Linked DNA regions of Homo sapiens. The protein of the gene in region 5 purifies or fractionates together with the protein of the main gene of each other region. This does not show direct contact. Each region holds a gene or a part of one and is shown on either strand. Other genes may lie near its edges. The genes, in order: RNF41, NLRP2, CNOT6, CLIC4, SUGT1, SKP2 and NLRP3.

Region 1 (3,244 bases), on a different chromosome or scaffold from region 5:
ATATGGAGGTGGGAGTGTGGTTGGAGATAGAAAGGCTCCTCCCCACCATGTAATGGCTTCCTCTCAGAATTTTATTCCAGGCTAGCTTGCTGCAGGTCTGGGTAGTTGGATCATGGCTCCACTGGGATTGGGGTGGAAAGCTTGAGGGGAGTAGGGTTCCAGCTCTGGGACATTGTGCTCAGGAATTTGAAAACGCTGCTATACTTACTCTGGTTACTACATTTCTTCCACTCCCCTTTCCCCTACCTGCCTTAACCAAGGCTCATACTGTCCTGTCCTTACCCTCAGATGGAGCCAGGAAGCTCAGTGAAAGGCTTCCCTACCCTTTGCACTAGTGTCTCTGCAGGTTGCTGGTTGTGTTGTATGTGCTGTTCCATGGTGTTGACTGCACTAATAATAAACCTTTTACTCAACTCTCTAAATTCTTCAGCATTACTCCCTTTCTTGAGAAGGTTTCCCCTCTGCTTTTGCCTTTCTCTCACCTTAATTCCCTTTCTTCCTTACTTTGTTACCTACCCTTATCTTAGTGCTAACTTCTCTTTCAGGAGGATGTCTGGGAGTAGTGTGCACTTCACAGCTGCTTTCCCATGTACCCTCCTGCATTCTTCCCTCCTATCTCCTGTTCTGTAGCAGCCAAAGCTCTCTAGTGATCTGAACTGTGTGCTTCCCAGGGTCTGCCTTTATCCTAAATTCCATGTCTTCCCTGAGTGGTCCTGAGTTTTTGGGATAATTTCTACAGAAGATATGTATATATCTTTTTCCTTTGTCCCACAAGCAACTTTGCTTTAGAATCTAGAATTCCTTTGCAGGCAGAGAAGTCTCTACCTCCCAGTGTTTCCTAGCTAAGAACGTAAATGTGAGGAGGGAAATGTACTTGCAGAGGTTTCATAATTATTTACTTATAAAAATAGTCTTCATAGCCGGGCGCGGTGGCTCACGCCTGTAATCCCAGCACTTTGGGAGGCCGAGGTGGGTGGATCACAAGGTCAGGAGTTCGAGACCATCCTGGCTAACACAGTGAAACCCCGTCTCTACTAAAAATACAAAAAATTAGCCGGGCGTGGTGGCAGGCACCTGTAGTCCCAGCTACTTAGGAGGCTGAGGCAGGAGAATGGCGTGAACCCGGGAGGCAGAGCTTGCAGTGAGCAGAGATTGGGCCACTGCATTCCAGCCTGGGCGACAGAGCAAGGCTCCGTCTAAAAAAAAAAAAAAAAAAAAAAGTCTTCATAGGCCGGGCACGGTGGCTCACGTCTGTAATCCCAGCACTTTGGGAGGCCAAGGTGGGTGGATCACAACGTCAGGAGATCGAGACCATCCTGGCTAACATGGTGAAACCCTGTCTCTACTAAAAATATAAATAAATTAGCCGGACAGGCGCCTGTCCTCCCAGCTACTCAGGAGGCTGAGGCAGGAGAATGGTGTGAACCTGGGAGGCGGAGCTTGCAGTGAGCTGAGATCACGCCACTGCACTCCAGCCTGGGCAACAGAGCAAGACTCCGTCTCAAAAAAAAAAAAAAAAAAACCAGTCTTCATAAGTATTTGCTGCTACCTTTCCCTGTCATAAGAAAAAGGATAGCCAGACATGGTGGGACGCCACTATGATCCCAGCTCCTTGGAAGGCTAAGGCACAAGAATCGCTTGAACCTGGGAGGTGGAGGTTGCAGTGAGCTGAGATCATGCCACTGCACTCCAGCCTGGTGACAGAGCAAGAGCCTGTCTCAAAAAAAAAAAAGAAAAGAAAAGAAAAAGGGATATCTTTTCCTCCTCCCAGAAGTTTGTTTTAAATTTGAGCATTTATCATGCACCTGATGTAAACCTAATAGTACTCTTGATACTCTAGTGGCTTGAAAAAAAAAAAAAAGGCATTTCTGTGCTGAGTCTGCGCTTCTATGCACACAAGGTATGTTTATAAAATACTGATAAGCATGTCACAGTATAGAGCATAAGAGGCAATGTATGTATCCTAGTGACATTAGCAGTGCTTTTCCCCCCTTAAACTCCTTTAAAATTACTTTTAGAACTTGCTGCTCATTCTTGTGAATGTTATGAATGGTGTCATATTGTCCTTTTACAGAAGATACGATTTTTAGAAACAAATATTCATTGAATGTCTGCCCTGTGAGATACTCACTAGAGTGAACATGAGGAGGCTTATGTAGCAAAATGGCACCTACCTGCAAAGAACTTAGTCCCTAATGGAGATGAATATATAATAAGGGATCATAAATGTGCTAAGTGGATTTACTAGTAATATGTGAGCCAAGGACGATAAAGCTCCTGATTCTGATGGGTATCAGGAAAGGCTTTTCAGGAAGTGTTACTTGTTATAGGTCAGAGGTCAGCAAACTACAGGTTACAACCCCACTGCCTGCTTTTGTAAAAAACTTTATTGGAATACAGTTATGCCCACTTGTTTATATATTGTCTGTGGCTGCTTTCACATTACAACAGCAGGGTTAAGTAGCTGGAACAAAGCCTAAAATACTTGGTCTTTTACAGAAAAAAATTTGCCAACCTGTTCTAAACTTTTAAGGTCAGGAGAACTGGGGGAAGGAGGGAGTAGAAAGAACACTGTCACCCAGACTGGAGTGCAGTGGCACCATCATATAGCTCACTGTAGCCTCAAACTCCTGGGCTCTAGTGGTCTTCCCACTTCAGCTTCTGGAGTAGCTGGGGCTACTGCACCTGGAATTGTCTTAATCTGTTTTAATACTAGTAAAATTTTTTTTGTTTCATCTCTTTCAGTGACTTTGATACACTGTCTTAATTTTTTTTTTTTTTTTTTTTTTTTTTTTAGATAGGGTCTGGCTCTGTAGCTGAGGCTGGAGTGCATGACGTAATTTTGGCTCACTGCAACCTCCACCTCCCAGGCTCAAGTGATCCTCCTACCTCAGCCTCTTAGGTAGCTGGGACCACAGGCATGCGCCACCACACCGGGCTAATTTTTTGTATTTTTTGTAGAGATGGGGTTTCACCATGTTGCTGAGGCTGGTCTCAAACTCCTGAGCTCAAGGAATCCACCTGCCTTGGCCTCCCAAAGTGCTGGGATTACAAGTGTGAGCCACTGCACCTGGCTTCATTGTCTTAATTTTTTACTTCAGTATATACATTGGAAAAATAAAAATATTTTTGACATTACCTAAATAACAAGTGTTTACAATTAACAATGTATAATGAATAATCTACTACAAACCCATGTTTACATTACCCTAATTGTCCCAAGAAAAGTCTTTTTTTTTTTTTT
Region 2 (3,500 bases), on a different chromosome or scaffold from region 5:
TCCTATGAAGGAATAGGAATGAGAGAAGAACAAAATTCACAGGCCATCGGCCTGGATCTAAACATGGGAACAGGTGTTCACATCAGCGAGAGGTTCCATACAGCCAAGTCAGGCATGACCATTGCTCGTCTGTGGCCCCAGATCGAAAGCACAGCTGCTCTGTAAGAGAGGAGAGACTTACGACAACCTCTGCAGAAAGCACTTGGGGTGTCTCAAAGTTGTGTACAGCAACTTAGCACCCTCATCCAGAAGCTCATTGTCGGAGAGGTTTACGCACGTCAGGGACTGGTTGACTTCAAGGGCCAAGGAGAGATCAGCCCACTGCTGAGTGGTAGCGGAACAAGACACCAACCTGTGGGAGAAATAGGACCACGTCATTTTTTTTTTTTTTTTGAGACTGAGTCTCACTCTTGTTGCCCAGGTGGCGCAATCTCGGCTCACAGCAACCTCCGCCTCCTGGGTTCAAGTGATTCTCCTGCCTCAGCCTCCCGAGTAGCTGGGACTGCAGGCATGCACCATGCACCAACATGCCCAGCTAATTTTGTATTTTCAGTAGAGGTGGGGGTCTCTCCATGTTGGTCAGGCTGGTCTCAAACTCCCAATCTCAGGTGATCTGCCCACCTCGGCCTCCCAGAGTGCTGGGATGACAGGCGTGAGCCACCGCGCCCGGCAGAACAAGTCATTCTTGAGAATCTAACCGTGGAATCGTCTTTGGTTTACATCTCACTGGTTGTGTTATACCCCGACTTGAATTATCTGGAGCAGCAGTTGTCAAAGGGTGGTCAGACCAGTGGCACCAACATCGCCCAGGAATCAGCTGGAAATACAGAACTTAGTCAATCTGACTCTAATGTTGGATGCAGACTCCGCTAACCTATGTTTCATTGTTTGGTTTTTTGAAAGGGAGTTATTTATGCTCTGTCGCCCTGGCTGGAGTGTAGTGGCGCGATCTCAGCTCACAGCAACCTCTGCCTCCCAGATTCAAGAGATTCTCCCGCCTCAGCCTCCTGAGTAGCTGGGATTACAGGCAAATGCCATCTTGCCTGGCTAATTTTTGTATTTTTTAGTAGAGATGGGGTTTTACCATGTTGGCCAGGCTGGTCTCAAACTCCTAACTTTGGCCGGGGCAATGGCTCATGCCTGTAATCCCAGCACTTTGGGAGGCCGAGGTGGGCAGATCAGGAGGTCAGGAGTTTGAGACCATCCTGGCCAACATGGTGAAACCCCGGCTCTACTAAACATACAAAAGTTAGATGGGCGTGGCGACACGTGCCTGTAGTCCCAGCTACTCAGGAGGCTGAGGCAAGAGAATCACTTGAACCCAGGAGGCGGAGGTTGCAGTAAGCCGAGATCACTCCACTGCACTCTAGCCTGGGCGACAGAGCAAGACTCCGTCTCAAAACAAAAAACTCCTGACTTCAAGCGATACACCAGCCTAGGCCTCCCAAAGTACTGGGATTACAGGCAGGAGCCACCATACCCAGCCCACTAACCTATGTTTCAAGGTGCCCTGTTCATCCGGAAAATGTGTTAGAATAAATTCATAAGAAATGAGTGGCTGGGCACAGTGGCTCATGCCTGTAATCCCAGGACTTTGGCAGGCCAAGGCAGGTGGATCATGAGGCCAGGAGTTTAAGACCAGCCGGAACAACATGATGAAACCCCATTTCTCCTAAAAATACAAGAATTAGCTGGGCGTGGTGGCACATGGCTGTAATCCCAGCATTTTGGAAGATGGATGTCACTTGAGGTCAGGAGTTCGAGACCAGCCCAGCCAACACGGTGAAACCCCGGCTCTACTAAATATACCAAAAATTAGCTGGGTGTGGTGGATTGCCCGAGGTCAGGAGTTTGAGACCACCCTGGCCACCAGCATGGCGTAACCCTGTCTCTACTAGAAATACAAAATACTAGAAATACAAAAATACAGGTGGGTGCCTGTAATCCCAGCTACTTGGGAGGTTGACGGAGAAGAATCACTTGAACCCGGGAGGCAGAGGTTGCAGTGAACCAAGATTGTGGCACTGCACTCCAGCCTAGGAGACAGAGCAAGACTATATCTTGAGAAAAAAAGAAAGAAATTAGTGACCCAAATCTTTAATTCACCCAATATTCCCCCTCACCCTGCATCCCATTATTCTCAGGCAAAAAGAAAAGAGGGTAATTGCAACGGTTAGTAATGATAGCAGCCACTATTGAATGCATGGGCTTGGTTTCATTCAACCTTCCAATACCTGTAAGATGTACAGCATCCTATTCAACTAAGATCCCATTAAGCAGCCTAAGATTGTATCAGTAGAGCCAGAGCAATCAATTTTTTTTCTGTCCTCGAGATGGAGTTTTGCTCTGTTGCCCAGGCTGGAGTGCAATGGCGTGATCTTGGCTCACTGCTACCTCTGCCTCCTAGGTTCAAGCAATTCTCTTGCATCAGCCTCCATGAGTAGCTGGGATTACAGGCACGCGCCACCATGCCCAGCTAATGTTTTTGTATTTTTAGTAGACGTGGGGTTTCACCATGTTGGCCAGGCTGGTCTTGAACTCCTGACCTTGTGATCCACCTGCCTTGGCCTCCCAAAGTGCTGGGATTACAGGCATGAGCTACCGCACCCAGCCAAGATTTTTTTTTTTTTTTTTGAGACAGTCTCACACTGTTGCCCAGACTGGAGTGCGGTGGTGTGATCTCAGCTCACTGCAACCTCCGCCTCTCAGGTTCAAATGATGCTCCTGCCTCAGCCTCCTGAGTAGCTGGGACTACAGGCGTGCGCCAACATGCCCAGCTAATTTTTGTATTATTAGTAGAGACAGAGTTTCACCATGTTGACCAGGCCGGTCTTGAACTCCTGACCTCAAGTGATCCACCCACCTCGGCCTCCCAGGCGTGAGCCACTGCGCCTGGCCCAGGGCAATAATTTGAGGCCAATGACCACCTACTACACCAGTGTGGCCAAGTGAGGCTTCATGGAACCCCATGATGCATGTAGGTTCTCATCGCCTGGGCAGCCACTGGACAGCTTCCCAAGGGGAGAGCTCTCAAACCAGAGGACTAACAGAAAAGGGGCAACTTGATGTTCCTGAAGGGTTCTTGCTTGAAAAATGTCAATAGCTGGTATTCTGAATCATCATACAGGAGAAGCATGAACCATGAGTGAATGATCTCTGATAGAAGATAAAGATTCTGGGCTGGGCACGGTGGCTCATGCCTCACTTTGGGAGGCCGACGGCGGGGTGGGGTGGGGGTGGGGGGGTAGATCACCTGAGGTCATGAGTTCGAGACCAGCCTGGCCAATGTGGTAAAACTCCATCTCTACTAATAATACAAAAATTAACCAGGTGTGGTGGTGTGCACCTGTAATCCCAGCTACTCAGGAGGCTGAGGCAGGAGAATCACTTGAACCTGGGAGGTGGAGGCTGCAGTGACCTGAGATCATACCAACGCACTCCAGCCTGGGTGACAGAGCGAGACTCCATCTCAAAAAGAAAAAAGAAAAAGAAAAAACCAA
Region 3 (3,500 bases), on a different chromosome or scaffold from region 5:
ATACTAAGATGCTGATCGTGGTGTTATCTTTAATTCTTTGTAAAAAGTGGAAACAACCTGCATTTTACAAAATAAGTAACCAGTAAATATTATCCACCAGCCCAATTGCATTGTGCAGCCATTAAAGAACGATAATTGGGAAGACACATGTTCATAAAGCAAATTATAAACTATTCAATACTCTGTGATGACAACTGTGTAAAAATAGATTTGGGCAAGTCCTGGCAAATGTAAAAGGAAACATTTTGGAACGTGGGAATATGTATAGTTTAAAACTTCTTACTATTGCATGATCTTTTAAAATTACTTTTTGTATATATTTGACAATAAAAAAATTTGTCTTCATTGTAGGTGTTGTAGAATATTTGAGCACAGGTGGAGTAGAAACAAATCACAAAGACTTTAAGGAGTTGAGGTATAATGAAAGTCTCACAAACTTCAGCTGTCATGGGAAGAATGGAACCACCAATGGAAGGATCACTCATGGTTTCAAGTTACAGAGTGCCTATGAGAGTGGCCTGATGCCTTACACGAATTACACATTTGATTTCAAGGTGTGTCTTGAGACTGATAAGCTTTTCAAACCTGTCTTTTACTGGCAGGTGTTCTGATACATCATTATGTCTTTAAAACTGTGGCTGTGTGTTCAGGCTGGAATGAAGCAGTCTTGAATTCATTGACAGCAATGTTCTTTGTTTTTTGTTTGAGACAAGGTCTCACTCTGTTACCCAGGCTGGAGTGCAGTGGCACAGTGATGGCTCACTGCAGCTTCAACCATGCCGGCTCAAACGATCCTCTCACCTCGGCCTCCCTAGTAGCTGGGACTACAGGCGCCTACTACCACGCCTGGCTAATTCTTGTATTTTTTGTAGAGATGGGGTCTCGCTATGCCCAGGCTGATCTTGAACTCCTGGCCTCAAATGATTCTTCCACCTCAGCCTCCCAGTGTGCTGGGATTACAGGCGTGAACCACTGTGCTCAGCCAGTAATATTCTTTTATTACTCTTTTTTAGAAGTCCATGTGATCAGTGTCACATCCTTACTTTGTAGATATTTATTCTAATAATTTTCAGGATAAGAAGTCACATGAAATAATCTGTAAAATTCCTAAGTTGACTTTTTCACCTTTTGGGGACAATTATGTTTCTTATATTCTCATTACTAATAGCTAGATATGCAGCACCATAATTATCTAGTTTGAGTGGCATTTGTGGTAAGATGTTCCTTCTCTTACATTTTAATTTAACTGAAAGTAAACTCTTGCATGCCAAAATGTGATTTATATTAGCTATTTTTAAGTGTTTCTAAGATACATCTTTTTTCTCCCCCTAGAGACAGTCTTGCTCTGTTGCCCAGGCTGGAGTGCAGTGGCGTGATCTCGGCTCACTGCAACCTCCACCTCCCAGGTTCAAGTGATTCTCATACCTCAGCCTCCCAAGTAGCTGGGATTACAGGCATGAGCCACCTCACCTGGCTAATTTTTGTATCTTTGGTAGAGACGGAGTTTCACCATGTTGGCCAGGCTGGTCTTGAATACCTGGCCTCAAGTGATCCACCCACCTTGGCCTCCCAAAGTGCTGGGATTACAGGCATGAGCCACCGCACCTGGTCAGACTTACACCATTTTTAACGTTAGTGATTGTTTAGGGCTGTCACTTTCTTGTGTTCAACTGTCCTTTTTCTAAAAAGAGATATGGTCTCACTCATTTTGCCCAGGCTGAAGTACAGTGATGTGATGATAACACACTGCAGCCTCAAACTCTCGGGCTCAGGCAACCCTCCTGCCTCAGCCTCCCCGCTAACTTGGACTACAGGTGTCCGCCGCCATACCCAGATCTTTTTTTTTTGGTAATTTTTTGTAAAGACAAGGTTTTGCTATATTGCCCAGCCCAATCTTGAACCCCTGGCCTCAAGCAATCCTCCTGCCTTAGCCTCCCAAAGTGCTGGGATTATAGACGGGAGCTACCACATCTGGCTCAGCTGCCCTTTTAAACTACTTTTTGCATTTCTGCTTTCTTAAAAATTTCTTAACTCCCAGCTTTCTATTTCTAAGCTGCTGGAAAAGTAATCATTTAGATTAGACTGTCAGAGTGTAAATAAGAGTTTAGATAGTATCTCAGGAGCCTTTGCACCTTAGAGCATAGAAAGTAAACCCCTGTTTATCCTCAGGTGCCCCTTCCTTTCAGGTTCTTCAGGAGACATTGAAGAGAAAGCATGGGTAGCAGCCACAGAGTGGGAATGCTTAGCGTTTTCTTTCTCTTTCTGTTGCTGATGCAGTGGCAGGAAGAAGACACTTGAATGTGCTTCAGTACATTTGGCCAAGAGCATGTAGAGGGGAGGACCAGAACCATCAGATGGGAACAGTTTAGTAGATGCCATGGCGGGGTGCTGCTGAGAGAAAAGGGGGTCAGGTAGAGACAGTCCTGCCCTCATGGAGCTGAGGTGTGATGAGAGAGACAAGTCTCAACCACACAAATGAGTAGATAATTACACCTTGAGATGGCCATTAGCAAGGGAAGTGAATCTGTGGTGAGAGGTAGGGTAGTAAGTAGGTAGGAGCAGGATTCAGGAAGGTCTTTGGAAAGCAGTTGAACCTGACATTGAAAGATTAAGAAGGAATTGACCTCATAACAAGTAGAAGAAAGTGTTCCAGGCAGAATGGTGGAGGGGGGCAGTGTGTGTGTGTGTGTGTGTGTGTGTGTGTGTGTGTGTGTGTGTGTGTGTCCGTCCGTCCGTCCGTCCTGGGGCAGGAAAGAACTTGGTACCTATAGGTCCCCTCACATCCTCACCCCTTTCTCATTCCAAAGGCTAGTGTGGAAGCAGGGAAAGTGGCACAAATTAGGCTAGGAAAGAGAAGCAGAGGCTGCATCCTGAAAGGCCTTTTAGGTCTTGTTAAAGATCCAGATAAGAAGAATGCTTCATTCTGCTAGATTTGACATTTTGCACGGGGACCATTTGGTGTATGTAGTACAGACCTCATCCTACAAGCTAGTAAGTTTCACTTGTTCTGTTCTGTTCACCAAACATGACATAAAGGCATGTCTTGAAAGCACTGAGGATTTTAGTGTTGTCTTATACGGTGCTTATCTTTTTTTCTGTTGTTTTTCAGGGTATAATAGACTACATTTTCTATTCTAAACCTCAGCTGAACACCTTAGGCATCCTGGGCCCTCTGGACCACCACTGGCTGGTTGAGAATAACATCAGTGGCTGCCCGCACCCCCTCATCCCCTCTGACCACTTCTCACTTTTTGCACAACTGGAGCTCTTACTGCCTTTCCTGCCCCAAGTCAACGGCATCCACCTTCCTGGCAGGAGGTAGTCAAGCACCTTCAGAGGACAGCCTTGATTCACTTGTAAACTTGTGAAAATCTGAACATAGGGGAGTGAGGTATGGCCACTGAGGATTTTTGCTTGCTTAAGAATGATTTGGACTTTCAATCTGATTATTTGATAAGGATATAGTATGAAAGCCAGGTGCTAGCAACAGACAAATTCTG
Region 4 (3,500 bases), on a different chromosome or scaffold from region 5:
TTTTTTTTTTGAGACAGAGTCTCACTGTCGCCCAGGCTGGAGTGCAGTGGTGTGATCTTAGCTCACTGCAACCTCCGCCTCCCGGGTTCAAGAGATTCTCCTGCCTCAGCCTCCTGAGTAGCTGGGATTACAGGCGTGCACCATCATGCCTAGCTAATTTTTGTATTTTTAGTAGAGATGGGGCCAGGAGTGGTAGCTCACGCCTGTAATCCCAGTACTTTGGGAGGCCGAGGCGGGCAGATCATGAGGTCAGGAGTTCAAGACAAGCCTGACCAACATGGTGAAACCCCATCTCTACTAAAAATACAAAAATTTAGTTTTTATAGAGATGAGGACTCACTATTTTGCCCAGCCTATAATTTTTTTTTTTTTTTTGAGACGGAGTCTTACTCTGTCGTCCAGGCTGGAGTGTAGTAACACAATCTCAGCTCACTGCAACCTCCGCCTCCCAGGTTAAAGCAATTCTCCTGCCTCAGCCTCCCGAGTAGCTGGGATTACAGGCGCCCACCACCACGCCCAGCTAATTTTTGTATTTTTAGTAGAGACAGGGATTCACCATGTTGGCCAGGCTGGCCTTGAACTCCTGACCTCAGGCGATCCACCCACCTCGGTCTCCCAAAGTGCTGGGATTACAGGTGTGAGCCATGGCAGTGGGCCTATCATTGTTATTTCTTATTTCTTATACCAATATCTGGAACTGACCACTGAGAGATAAGAGGCAAGTCTCGAAATAGACAATATAATTAAAAGCCATGAGAAAATTCACTAGCTGATGCCCTAAATTACATTTACATGTCTTAAATCATCCTTGGACAATAGGTAACCATGACCTAATGTCATTTTCCTTCAGAAAGTCCCTTTCCATTCTCTATGCAAGCGTCTAAAACAGGCAAACCCATCCTAGCTTACTCCTCTACTTGACCAAAATCTTAACTCATGCCTTAATCACACTTCCCATCCTGCCTAACACATTTTCCTTTTATGGACTCACAATTCCCTACTCAGGGGACATCAGAACACGGAGGCTCCACAGCTCTAACGAAACAGGAAGCGGAAAAGGATGGCTCACCATCCTTACTTACTGGCTTCTAGGCACCTCTGCAGGCATCTTCCCAAACCAACTGTGACATTTCCTGACAGCCAGGTTCTTCTCCCAATTGCCTCTTTCCTATCATTATTCATACTCTGTTAAGCTTTTCGTGTGCTCAGTCTCCTAGGCTCAAAGCCTCCTGCCTCTTCCCCATTCTAGGCTCCTTTCTCACAGGTTTTTACATTAAACCAAAATCATCAAATTTGGCCTTTGCCAAAAGTAGCATTATTAGGTCTTCAGGAACAGCTCAGGCAAAAAGTTAAAATAATAGGTTTTCATTAACTTCATACTTTACATTCATTTCTGTCTCCTGAATTTTCCCCCCGGAAACCTCAAATGAATGGCAAATCAATTAGATTCAAGGTAATATTGTCTGAATATTGAGTTAGCTTTTGTTAATTACCAGAACAGTTTTCAGCATCATTTCCTATAGAAAATTTATTTCATTTTTTTCTGTTAGAAAAAACAAAGACGGGGGGAAGTTTGAAGCCTGTCCTTGAAACAATATAAAGAATTCCCACTTTAAACTGTCAAAACAGTCCATCTGTACAATCCATTTGCACCTTCCCAAGTGCCACTGAAAAGTTATTAAACAGACAGCAATCCAAAAACACAGGAAAGTGTGGGGAGAATGAAAAAAGTTAGGAAAATGTATACATTAACAAAAACCCAAGTTAGGTTTTAAAAGTCTCATCCTCAACTTTTAAATAACTTGTCTCCCTGGCACTATAGATCTGAATCACTCCTGGTTCCTTCTTAGGTATCAATCTACCAATTGTTTCCTGCATAAGGAGTTTCCACATAATGTCAAAACTCACATTCCCATTCTTGGCTATTCCGAACCCACCTATTCACCTCCTTTTTCAAGGTCAAGTTTAAGCCTCCTTCCATCTTTCCCCATGTCTCCTAGCCCTACTTAATGTGAGCCCCACTTGACTCTTTAAGCATGGACCATCTTGTATTGTTTTCTTTCCAATAAAATTTGTAAACCTAAAGAAATTAACTGTTTAATAATTTCTTATATCTTCCATAGTACTTAACTCAGTATTAGCACTTAGTTCATGCCGGTACATTCTTTAAGTCATAGTTAATAATAACTAGAAGAGACCTTTGTGATCATCTAGCCCAAGCCCTTCTTTTATACCTTGCTTATATAAAGTATTCTTGACTCTAAGAATTCCACTATTTACTTCTTTTAGAACAGTGGTTCTTAGCCTTGGTTTAGGAATTTCCAGAAAAAAAGCCTCACATTAGAATTTTTTACTGTAATTTCAAGGATTTACAGAACTCCCTGATCCTACTAATAGAGCCCACATTTAAAAATAATATACTATTAGGCTGGGCGCGGTGGCTCACGCCTGTAATCCCAGCACTTCGGGAGGCCAAGGCGGGCAGATCATGGGGTCAGGAGATCGAGACCATCCTGACCAACACGGTGAAACCCCATCTCTACTAAAAATACAAAAATTAGCTGAGCATGGTGGCACGCGCCTGTAGTCCCAGCTACTCCAGAGGCTGAGGCAGAAGAATCGCTTGAACCCGGGAAGCAGAGGTTGCAGTGAGCCAAGATTGCACCACTGCATTCCAGTCTGGCGACAGAGCGAGACTCCGTCTCAAAAAAAAATAATAATAATAAACTATTATCGATGACAAAAGCAGGTGTTTACTATGTGTCAAGCACTCTTCCTAAAGCTTTACATAGGATGGTATACGGTTAGACCACACTTGCCAGCCTCTCTTGCAGATGAAGCTATGTGATTAAGTTCTCTCCAATAGAATGTGACCGGAAGTAACAGGTAGAACTTCTGAGCTGGGGCCCTTAAGATGTGCTTCCTCCATATTTTCCACCCCCCACTGGCAACAGACAGTACTTGTCACCCACCAACTTTGACAATTCAGAAGAGGACAATGCTCTGGGAGTTAGTGGACAAATAAGCTAGAAAGAGCCCGGGTCCCTTAATGACTCTGAGGAGGAAAGCCACCCTAACATCTAAGACATTCTCCTGGACTGAGGGGTGAGAAATAAACTTCCATCATATTTGAACCACTGTTTGTGGGGGGATAACTTATTACAGCAACTTAAACTACCCTAACTAATATGCACAGATTAACAGTTTTAATCCCCTCAGTAACCATATAAAATTGCTATTATTATTATCCTGATATTAGAAGTTAGGAAACTGAAGCACTGAGAGCTTAAAAACTTGCCTGACATACTAGAAGCCAGATTCAAGTCAAGCAGTGTGGCTCCAGAGTCCAAGCACATTAGGAACCTCTGCCAAATATCTCAAAAGAAACAGACTCTTATGTGTTATGCCACCCTGCACCAGATTAACTTTTTACAAACACCACCCCAATCCCAGCAGCTTGGTGACTACTTGCTGACAGTGATCATCCCAGTTCACAGTGG
Region 5 (3,500 bases):
CCATAAGTTTTCAACTTCCTCAAAAATTACTCTTAGAGCAAAAAGAAACGTTCAGACAGACCTTATTCAAAAAGTTCTCCCAGCTATAGTACACGCAATTTGGTCTCACATTACCAATTTTCTCGTTTAAAATATGTAAAATTTGCTCCCATATATATTTCTTTAAGTTTATATTCTTACAAAGGATTTGTTCATGGCACGTTTCACTTCATCAGAACCATCTGAATAGATCTGCTGAAATAATCTGTTTAAAGCTGCATCTCCCTCCAACTTTTCATTCTTTTCTTCTTCTTTGATCTCACCAACCAATTTATCCCAATTTCTTGTATAAGGAGATGATGATGGATATAGGTTCTTTACATCTATGAAGTAAAAAAAGGCAGAAGTAATTAATCAACATGTTTCAATTATGTCGAGAATATGTAAACTTTGTGACCATGTATATGGAACATCTTAGCAAACAGTTTAGGTTACTGAATTTCAGGTATGCAATAAGTGTCTTTCTGGTATATAGGTCAATAACAAAATTCACATTTCTAAAAACTGAGTCAGTTACCATAATGTAAAATCTGGGGATTTCTTTTGAGCAAAATAACTCAATAAAGTGTAAACTTTTGATATGCTATACAAAATTAGATTAAAAGCAGATTCTTCATGTTGATAACAGAAACTAGATGAAAAGTATACAGAACTTTTATGTTTTCAGAAAAGTTGCAGAGACAGTACGAACAATTCTAAAAATGAAATTTTTTAAAGGATGCCTAAGAAATCTTTTGTAACTAAGATTTTAATAAATGTTAAAAATGTGACTTTTTCTAAAGTACTTAGTATCTTTCAGAGTATAAATAGCCTGAAAATATAAATAATCATCCATGCCACTCCATACTCTCCCATCAAAAAAGTAAGATTATTTTAATAGGCAATAACAGTAAGTAATTTCTAAATGTTTAAAGTACTACACTTGATGATCTAAAGTTCAATGCCCACATCCCATACACCTAGCAAATAATAGTATTTGTAGGGCACACTGGAGTAAACAGAGCTGCTTGCAGCGAGAGAGGCTACTGGCCCAGGGGCTCGGGGTACTGCCAAGATTGCTCCAAAGACCAAAGGCATCAAGATCTTGGCACACAAATAATTAGAAAATAACTAGACAACCTAGTAGCTATAGGAGCAGCTCTGTTGACTATCCAATGAAAATATAATGACAGCCTCAAATGTGAGTCACATATATAATTTAAAACTTCCTAGTAACTACATTACTAAAAAGAATCAGGTGAAATGCAGTTTAATAATACATTTTATTTAACCTGATATATCAAATATAGTATCATATTGACTTGAAACCAACAGAGGCCGGGCATGGGGGCTCACACCTATAATCCCAGCACTTTGGGAGGCCAAGTAGGAGGATTGCTTGAGGCCAGAAGTGTGAGACCAGCCTGGGCAACATAGTGAGAGCCCATCTCTATGAAAAAAAAATAATAATAATTAGCTGGGCGTGGTGGCACATGCCTGCAGTACCAGCTACTCGGAAGGTTGGGGTAGAGGACTGCTTGAGTCCAGGAGGTTGAGGCTACACTGAGCCATGACAGTGCCACTGCATTCCAGCCTGGGTGACACAGCAAGACTCTCTCTTAAAAAAAAAAAAAAACCAACAAAAAAAATGAAGATATTTTATATTCTTTTTTTCATACTAACTCTTCAAACTGTAGCATATATTTCACATAGCACATCATCTCAATGCAGACTAGTCATATTTCAAGTGCTCAACAGGTAACATGTGGCTAGCAGCTACTGTGTTGGACAAAAGAGCTACAGTTTTCAAAAAACCCAATTCAAAATTTCCCCATCAGTATGTATTAGGACACATTAGTACTAATCTAAATGTTCCTCCCAATACTGCTCTCTACATCCCTTTTGTCAAAATAGCTGAGAAACTAACATCCACTGTTTTTCTACGCTTTCTCTTCACTTGTAAACCGACTTTCTCCCTGCCCATTCCTCCTCAAAACAAAACAACACACACAACACCAACACATAGTTTTTTTTCAGGGCCAAATATATTGTTTTGAAAATCCTATCCACCTTCCTTCTACTAGATATCCTTCTATCTTTGTACATTTTCACTAGTAGCCAGGTAAAACAAAAAATGCGTGCCATGGTAAGTTAAGAGCCTGGGAAATATGGATTTAATTAATCCTAATGCTGACTCCCAGGAAGGATGAGAACAGAGGTTTTAATCTCTATTTTGTAGATAAGCAAGCTGGGTCAGATAGGTTAAGTGACTTGCCCTTATCTACAGTCTCCAGCTTGCAATACACAGGAATCTGACAAGTATATTAATTTCTTACAAAAACAGGACAGGAAGAGTATCATCTTGAATATCTAAGGTGTTGAGTTTAGAAAAAACATGGTAACTGTAACACTAAAAAGCCTTGATCTTTAATCTCAGAAAAACTTTTAACACCTGGAGATGGCAGATGAACTACTGAGAGATGAGTAATCTAACCTCCCTGCTCATTCACTATAATATCAAATAACTACTAGATACTCATGTCGGCAAAGACTGTTTCCATTGTTAGAAAATGCAACAACAAGCAGTATGCAACAAGTAGACAACGGGTTAACAGAATAACTGGACCCAACTGAGAAGACCTAGATTTTAGTCCTAGACAATGAGAACTGAGGGATAATCTTGAGCTTAACTTTTCTGAGCCTGCAAAATGGGAGGAATACTAAGGGGCTGCCTGTTATGCAGGGCTGTTAGAATTAAGTAAGATACTACATTTAAAGTGATTATATATTTTTTAAAGCTTTCAGCTACATATAAACCTCAGCCTCAAAATCTATTGGAGTCAGTCCTAAAAGAAACACATACATCTTTCAAATAAAGTGTGAAGCAGATGCTTAAATACCTTAAATACCAACTAGATATACTTCAGTCCTTAAAAAGTATCTGTTGGTGTTAATACCCTGATTTTGAAAATTATACCACAGACTACTTAAGAGGTAATCATTGGACTAGTTAAGACACTATCAATGGGGGAAACTGGGTGAAAGCTATATGAGAATCTCTTATTTTTGAAATTTCTAAACATCCAAAATTATTTCTTAAGAAATAACTATACACACACACACAAACACACACACAAATGATCTGTTGAATAACTCAGTGTTTTCTAAAAGGTGCCACAAGGAAATGTGTTTTCTGTTACAGAAGAAAGCAGTCAAAATCAGAAAAAGCTGAGACACATGTTAGCTTGTTTCAGTCATTAAATCAGACCATTACTTCCAATAAAAAGAAATTTCCCTCCACTCATTAATGAAGCTATTGCTATAAAATATAATCTTAGGTTGTAGTTCTGAGTGTGCTGTGAATTTGTCCACTAGAAAAATTCTTACCTAGTTATTGCACATACTTAAAATTGACCTCAACACAAAGTTCTGTTTCTTACAGGGTTATATATACAATGAAGCCTGGTTTTCTACTCTTCTCC
Region 6 (3,500 bases), on a different chromosome or scaffold from region 5:
TAGGGGCCCATTACAATCTGGTCCCTGACTCTCCTCACCTTGTCACTCTCCTCCCTTAGTCCTGTGCTCCAGCAACTTCCAACTACGTAAGAGTTTAGAACCACACAGGAAGTTTTACCTAGACTGGTTGCTTTGTCTTATTACCTAGAGATCTCCTACCTAGATATCTTCAATACTCAAGAGTCACTTCCTCTAACAAGGCGGCTCCTCGTGTGTTGCCACATATTCACTGAAACATTTAATAAACACACTGCATGGTAATTATCTGTCTTGCTCATAAATAGTTTACCTTCTTGCAAGAGAAAATAGACATGTCTTGCTCAATGTTTCCTCTTGCAAGAAGGTAAACTATAGCTTAACCAGCATTCACTAACAAGGTGGGAAAAGTTTTAGAGCATTCATTTTCTTCCCAAATAATACACATGCATTGTTCATCCTTGTACTTGTATCTCTAGAACCTAGCACAGGGCCTGGCATATAGTTAGCATTCAAGCTTTTGTTGCTTCAATGAGTCCTGAAAAGTTTTGCAGAAGCTAGAGCACTGCACTAGATATTTTCTGTATCCACCTGGATATGGCTAGAAGGGCACCCCAGTTATATACAGGGAAAAAAATTCATACACATAAAATCAACTGCCTTTGTGACACTCTGCCTGCCACTCACTTGACAATGGGATCCGAAAGCCGCAGGCCTTCCAGGCTTAGATTCTGCAACTTGGAACACTGAGACAGTATGCCGTGGAGGGTGGACACTTCTATAACTGAGTTCGATAGGTCCATGTGCTGTACACGAAAAGGGCTAAACACGGAGAGAAAAAAGGAGCTCCATAGGTGGCTCTCACGGGTACATCCAATTTCAAACCAGACCCCTCTTCTCCCCAAATGAGCAGCCAATCACAAACAAGACTCTAAATACATACTTCAAGCATTAACTATAGGGTCATAAAACATATTGCTACTAGTGTATTCCCATCTTCATTCATTTTAAAATGCAAGAGGATTTTTGCCAAGTACAGATGTTGCTGCCAATATAGTCCCACTTAGAAAATAACGAGTGGGCATCACAACAATGAGCTGGATGTGGGTGACAAGGAGATTAAGACCATAACGGCTCCTGGTTTCTGGCAGGGGTGAGTGGGTGAGCAGCAATAGAACAGGGAAGGTAGCGGAAGAGAAAGTTTTAAAGGGAGACCAGGCTGGGCGCAGTGGCTCACGCCTGTAATCACAACACTTTGAAAGGCTGAGTCCAGTGGATCACGATGTCAGGATATCAAGACCAGCCTGGCCAGCATGGTGAAACCCAGTCTCTACTAAAAATACAAAAAATTAGTTGGGCGTGGTGGCGCACACCTGTAGTCCCCAGGTGCTCGAGAGGCTGAGGCAGAATTGCTTGAACCTGGCAGGCAGAGGTTGCAATGAGCCGAGATCACGCCACTGCACTCCAGCCTGGGTGACACAGCAAGACTCCGTCTCAAAAAACAAAAACAATAAAAAAAAAGGGAGGCCAAATTTGAGTTATGCTAATATTGAAGTCCTTGTAAGAAATTCAGGTACAGACGTTTTTAGGTAATTAGAAATTTGGGAATTTGAAAGGGAGGGCCAAGCTATAGATGAGGAACTGAGAGTCCTGGGCATAAATGTGGGTGTAGAGGACACAGCTTGTCCAGGGACAGCATTTGGATTTGAAAAAGGTGGCAGCCAGGAACCGACCCTGGAGTGAACAGAGGAAATCACATATGTGAAGGAGACTGAGAAGGAACAGCCACAGGAGGAACAGGATAAAAAGCAGTGGGAGAGGCGGTCCTGACTACGGAAAGAAGGGAAAAAGTACTGGAGTCAGGAGACATGTTTTATCTTTAGCTTTGTTGTCTTCAGCTTGTTTTTCTGTTCAGTACCTAGTTATTCTACTATGTGATAGCAGTAACCTCAGTATTGCAAAATTATCAGAACAGAAAATTCTTTTTCAAAATATTCTACAAAACAAACAAAAAGAGGGCATTTTTTTCAGGTTCCAAATTTCTCCAAGACAAAAATCATAAACCCCAAGCTACAAACATGAAAAGACTCCTCACTTTTTTTTATTTATCAGAAATGGGCATTGGGGAAGTAACTGGGCACCCTTGCATCTGCCAGTGAGTGCTTTACTTGTGCCTGCCTTGTGGGACTCACAGTCCCCCTATCAGCTGAGGACTTGAGAAGACAAATGTGCCTCTTTCACCCTGGGAAGAGACTAACAGTAAACTTGAGTGAAATGGGAACAGTGTCATTGAAATCTATGCTAGGTTTTAGCACAAAGGCCCCATAGCAAAGTATGGAATTAACATCCCACACTGCACAGATAACCTACCATAGGCTTTAAGGCTGAAGAAAGAAAAAAAAAAAAAAAGCTTTGATCTGTTTCTACCTCGAAATTTAGAAATAGTCTTTTCCAGGGATTTTTCATCTTTACCTGAAATGTTCAGCCAATGGTTGGTCCATAAATGATCGTGGGCAGCGGAAGGCAATCACCCCTTGAGACAGCAACCGACCAGTCACATCCGGGTGCAGATTTTTACCTGTGAGGTCTAAGGTCTGCCATAGAGACTCATCAGACCTATAAAAGAGGAGATACTTAATTTGGCCAGTCGGTCACACTAAATGCTGGAAGCCCTCAACAACATTACTAACAGGTAGGACACTGCTGCTAAATCTCCTTGAAGCATATTCTAAAAGAACTTTTGTTTTTAAGTTGGCTATACAATTAGCTATGATATTTTTAAGGCACTAGAGAATTTTTCTTGATTTCACCAGGGATAAGCTTCCATCTTTCTCTTTCTATATACTTCCAATTTAGATGGTTCAATGTGAACATTAGCACTGCCGTGATCTAGAACCAGAGAATCATATTCCAGCATTCAAGTTGACAAATTTAAAAAATGATTGCTCAAATCAATTAATTATTATATTACTAGGCAAATAGGATCCTCTAAGAAGTTTTAAATCTATTTGACACTTTTGTCAAGCAATTATGATTACTGTAGCAACATGGAAAATTACTAAAGGAACGAAAGTTAGCATTATTTTATTATGAAATAAGGCTGTCATAGATATTCAATAGCAACAGTCATGGTTCAGCTGTGCCTTATAATATATTTGAAGCTTAAAACATACACGTGTATATGTATGTGTACATATGTGTGTGTATGAACTAATGTGAAATAAGGGAAAAATACAACGGATTATAGATGGTGTTTCTAAAACAAAAGGGATGTTCTAAAAACGTACTGAATAGCACAGTAAGAGGGTTTTAATATCCATAGTTTAATTCAATTTAAAAAAAGAAAATGTGAAATATAAGCACATGAAGGAACATTTTAAATGCTTAGGTGTACTAGAATTTTCTTTTTTAATAGTGCTTGAAATAAGTGGACCACTGGCCAGAGTTATGAAATAACTTCATCATAAAAAAATTGTCAGTGTGATTTGTGTGACAAATCTATCATTAAAAAGGTGGACTGTAGA
Region 7 (3,500 bases), on a different chromosome or scaffold from region 5:
CCTGGCCGGAGGAAAGCTGTGTGAGGAGGAGGAGGAGTATGGGGTAACTGGCTCAGTTTGCCTTGGCTCTTTCTGTCGGACTCATACAGCAAAGCATCTGCTGAGACATCATTTGTGTCTCCTGTGACAGCCAGAGACAGCAGGTCTTGCTCTCCCCAGATCATATCTGAGATGCTGGCTCCTGCTCTCTGAGCTGAAGGCTGCAGCTGCTGAGAGAGGACGAGGCACTGAGTCAAAGCAGCTGCACAATGTTGGGGAACAGCTGGGTACTGAGGACTCTTCTCCCTGTCCTTCTACAGGTTGGTGAATTCTGGCCTTACGTCAGTCTGTTGTTCAGCTTTGTCCTCGGTACTCAGCACTAATCAGAATCTCACGCACCTTTACCTGCGAGGCAACACTCTCGGAGACAAGGGGATCAAACTACTCTGTGAGGGACTCTTGCACCCCGACTGCAAGCTTCAGGTGTTGGAGTAAGTCCTTTGGTTTATTACAGCAATGAGAACACATGGTGGCCAAGGGTGGAGGGACGTTTAGGCAGAGTGGCCACAAGATAATCTGTATCTTAGAAGTGAGGTGTCTTCTTAGTGTTTGCCTTGTTACAGGATCATGGGACTGGGAGGAGTCCTTCCAGATGATATAGATGTAGGAACTTGAGTCCTTACCATCACAGTTTTCTGTACCACAAAACAAGGAGGGCAGTATGACACTTACATTTTATGGAAATGTAGGGAAAGGCACAGAATTTGGTAAATCAATGAACAAACCACTGTTACTAATTTGATCTGTGCAATGCAGTGGATTTGAAAAAGAGAGAGAAGAATAATTACCAGCATACAAGGCTGCTTGAAGCTAGTTAGTCCTGTGCTCCTGTGCTTTTTTTTTTTCCACCTGAAACAAGACAGGCTAAGATGCTAAAATCTTGGGGAGCTAGGGGGATGGTTAAGGGGACATTTTCTTTAAATCACCCCCTTTTTGCAGATTAGACAACTGCAACCTCACGTCACACTGCTGCTGGGATCTTTCCACACTTCTGACCTCCAGCCAGAGCCTGCGAAAGCTGAGCCTGGGCAACAATGACCTGGGCGACCTGGGGGTCATGATGTTCTGTGAAGTGCTGAAACAGCAGAGCTGCCTCCTGCAGAACCTGGGGTGAGTGTGCTCTGCAGAGATGCCCGTGGTGGGACTCTGAGTTCTCAGGAAACGTTGACTGTTATCAAAATCCAGGATGGCTCTCGCTTCATTTGCAGCCACTCAAGATTAGGTTGGGCCTGGGTCAGTTGTGGTGGATATTTTAAAATAGAGAATATGGGGTTAAACTACACATTCCACTTCACTGAGATGGTTAGAATCACCAAGGCTAAGCTGGATTTCACCCACATTCCCCAAAGAAACACAAGCCCTCATGCGATCATGGCCAAGGAGGATTCTGTTCTACACAAGGAACCGAACTTCGTAGAACTCGTCTATGGGTCATCCAAATTGGAAGGGTCTTTACATAGTGGGGATCTTGTTGTTTTGTTTCTGAGGATTTATTTTTTTTTTCCTTGAGACAGAGTCTTGCTCTGTCGCCCAGGCTGGAGTGCAGTGGCATGATCTCGGCTCACTGCAAGCTCCGCCTCCCGGGTTCACGCCATTCTCCTGCCTCGGCCTCCCAAGTAGCTGGGACCACAGGCGCCTGCCACCACACCCGGCTAATTTTTTGTATTTTTAGTAGAGTTGGGGTTTCACTGTGTTAGCCAGGATGGTCTCCATCTCCTGACCTCGTGATCTGCCTGCCTCGGCCTCCCCAAGTGCTGGGATTACAGGTGTGAGCCTCCGTGCCTGGCGGTTTCTGAGGATTTCTAAATGGGAAAAGAGTGCTCCAGGAATAGCAAGATGGGAAATTACACGAAATTCGACAGTGTGTCAGGATATTGCCAGCCCACCTCTGTGATACTACTGAGGTAGTCGTCTCCTCTCTAGCAAGAGCTTCCTGGCGAGTCCCACGGTTCTGTCAGCCGTGATGATTGCACTTTTCCCTGAAGACGTTTTCACTGCTTGGCTTTAAGGCCAACATGCTCTCCTGGGTTTTCTCCTATTTCATCAGATCCTTCTACTCAGTCTCCTTTCTGGCCTCTTCTTCATCATCCTGACCCTTATGTGTTGAATCCTCAGAGCTTAGTCGCTGGGCTAATTTTTCTTCCCTACACTTTCTCCCTCATTTAAATTATCTGGTCTTCTGGCTTCATGATATGTGTGCTGTGGCCTCCAGATTATATGTCCATAAATTCTGTGTCTCCGTGCTTGGCTGATCTTTCTTCTTGAAGGTTTAATAAACCTCTCAAACGTCACATCTAGATCCACACCCTTGCTACTCTCTTCTACCCGAAACCTGATTCTTCCCCATTTCAGTCGATGGTCACTTCCTCCAAGTTGCTCGGGCCAAAACATTTCTGGTTCTGTCGTCACTGTCTCTTTTTCCTTATAATCATGTCCAATGTGTCAGCACATCCTGTGAGCTCTGCCTTCCCAGCTTGGCCACTCCCTGACCACTTCAGGCCAGCTTCACGGCTTCTTCCTTGGCTCAAGCCACCATCACCTGGTGTCTGGATTGTCATGGTGGCATTCTGACAGGTCACCCTGCATCTGTTATTCTGATTTTAGCAGACAAGGGATTCAGCTAAAACGTAACTCGCATCATATCACTCTTGTCAACATCGTCTTCTTATCACTTTCATAATCAGAGCAACAAACTCATGGTGGCTTCCATGCCCCACATAATCCAGCCTCTCCTGCTTCCGAAGATTCCGCTTCTCCCAACCCTTGCTTATTCTGCCCCAGTACAGTGATCTCCTTGCTGTTTTGCAAGAACACTGTCATCTCTGGATTTTTGCACTTGCTTTTCTTCTGGCCTAGAACTCTCTCCCCTTCAGTATCCACCTGCATTATTCCCTGTACCTTCCTAAATTCTCTGCTTAAAGGTCTTCTCTGCGAGGCTGTCTTTGACTATTCTACTGAAAATAGAAGCACTTTTTCTTCTCTTCTCATTCTCCTCTGCAGTGTAGCACATCTTATGTGCTATGTCATTTTCTTGTTTATTTATTATCTATCTCTGCTCCCAAAATATAAATTCCATTAGTCCAGGGACTTCTGTCCATATTAATGATCTCAAGGCTGAGAACTTGTTGGAATGCAGGTTTGAATAAATACAAGTTTGAATCAGCCTTGCATCCTTGTGCCAACATAATGGAGCACATTTGCTGCAGGACAAGCCAATATTCCCAGAGCTAAGAGAGATGGGGGAACAAACAAAGGATTGGTCAGGTCAAAGCTGGGGACACTGCTACATGTAGCATCACTGACCTAGCCCTGAGGGACATTCTGGACCCAGGCTGAGGGACAGGCTCAAAATAGATTGAAGAATCCATGAATGCAATCAACCCGTTTTCTCAGGCTGCGATAACAAGCTGCTTTAGACTGTGTGACTCAAACACAGATTTATTATCTCACAATACTGGAGG

The links.
Region 1: the proteins of SUGT1 (region 5) and RNF41 purify together in Homo sapiens (affinity purification with mass spectrometry; 3 studies listed by BioGRID and IntAct, with this or other methods). This does not show direct contact.
Region 2: the proteins of SUGT1 (region 5) and NLRP2 purify together in Homo sapiens (affinity purification with western blotting; 2 studies listed by BioGRID and IntAct, with this or other methods). This does not show direct contact.
Region 3: the proteins of SUGT1 (region 5) and CNOT6 purify together in Homo sapiens (affinity purification with mass spectrometry; one large-scale study listed by BioGRID and IntAct). This does not show direct contact.
Region 4: the proteins of SUGT1 (region 5) and CLIC4 fractionate together in Homo sapiens (co-fractionation; one large-scale study listed by BioGRID). This does not show direct contact.
Region 6: the proteins of SUGT1 (region 5) and SKP2 purify together in Homo sapiens (affinity purification with mass spectrometry; 3 studies listed by BioGRID and IntAct, with this or other methods). This does not show direct contact.
Region 7: the proteins of SUGT1 (region 5) and NLRP3 purify together in Homo sapiens (affinity purification with western blotting; one study listed by BioGRID). This does not show direct contact.

What each region holds. Positions count from the first base shown.
Region 1 is NC_000012.12:56,201,679-56,204,922, reverse strand, and holds the end of RNF41 (E3 ubiquitin-protein ligase NRDP1), read left to right. Parts: 3' UTR 1-2,744; downstream 2,745-3,244. UniProt on the Homo sapiens protein: Acts as E3 ubiquitin-protein ligase and regulates the degradation of target proteins. Polyubiquitinates MYD88. Negatively regulates MYD88-dependent production of pro-inflammatory cytokines.
Region 2 is NC_000019.10:54,986,874-54,990,373, reverse strand, and holds part of NLRP2 (NACHT, LRR and PYD domains-containing protein 2), read right to left. Parts: intron 353-3,500; coding exon 182-352; exon of another isoform or gene 1-181. UniProt on the Homo sapiens protein: Suppresses TNF- and CD40-induced NFKB1 activity at the level of the IKK complex, by inhibiting NFKBIA degradation induced by TNF. When associated with PYCARD, activates CASP1, leading to the secretion of mature pro-inflammatory cytokine IL1B.
Region 3 is NC_000005.10:180,570,879-180,574,378, forward strand, and holds part of CNOT6 (CCR4-NOT transcription complex subunit 6), read left to right. Parts: intron 1-351; coding exon 352-554; intron 555-3,109; coding exon 3,110-3,322; 3' UTR 3,323-3,500. UniProt on the Homo sapiens protein: Poly(A) nuclease with 3'-5' RNase activity.
Region 4 is NC_000001.11:24,751,947-24,755,446, reverse strand, and holds part of CLIC4 (chloride intracellular channel protein 4), read right to left. Parts: intron 1-3,500. UniProt on the Homo sapiens protein: In the soluble state, catalyzes glutaredoxin-like thiol disulfide exchange reactions with reduced glutathione as electron donor. Can insert into membranes and form voltage-dependent multi-ion conductive channels.
Region 5 is NC_000013.11:52,676,836-52,680,335, reverse strand, and holds part of SUGT1 (protein SGT1 homolog), read right to left. Parts: intron 363-3,500; coding exon 181-362; intron 1-180. UniProt on the Homo sapiens protein: May play a role in ubiquitination and subsequent proteasomal degradation of target proteins.
Region 6 is NC_000005.10:36,165,611-36,169,110, reverse strand, and holds part of SKP2 (S-phase kinase-associated protein 2), read right to left. Parts: intron 2,593-3,500; coding exon 2,449-2,592; intron 799-2,448; coding exon 664-798; intron 1-663. UniProt on the Homo sapiens protein: Substrate recognition component of a SCF (SKP1-CUL1-F-box protein) E3 ubiquitin-protein ligase complex which mediates the ubiquitination and subsequent proteasomal degradation of target proteins involved in cell cycle progression, signal transduction and transcription.
Region 7 is NC_000001.11:247,443,673-247,447,172, forward strand, and holds part of NLRP3 (NACHT, LRR and PYD domains-containing protein 3), read left to right. Parts: intron 1-299; coding exon 300-470; intron 471-978; coding exon 979-1,149; intron 1,150-3,500. UniProt on the Homo sapiens protein: Sensor component of the NLRP3 inflammasome, which mediates inflammasome activation in response to defects in membrane integrity, leading to secretion of inflammatory cytokines IL1B and IL18 and pyroptosis.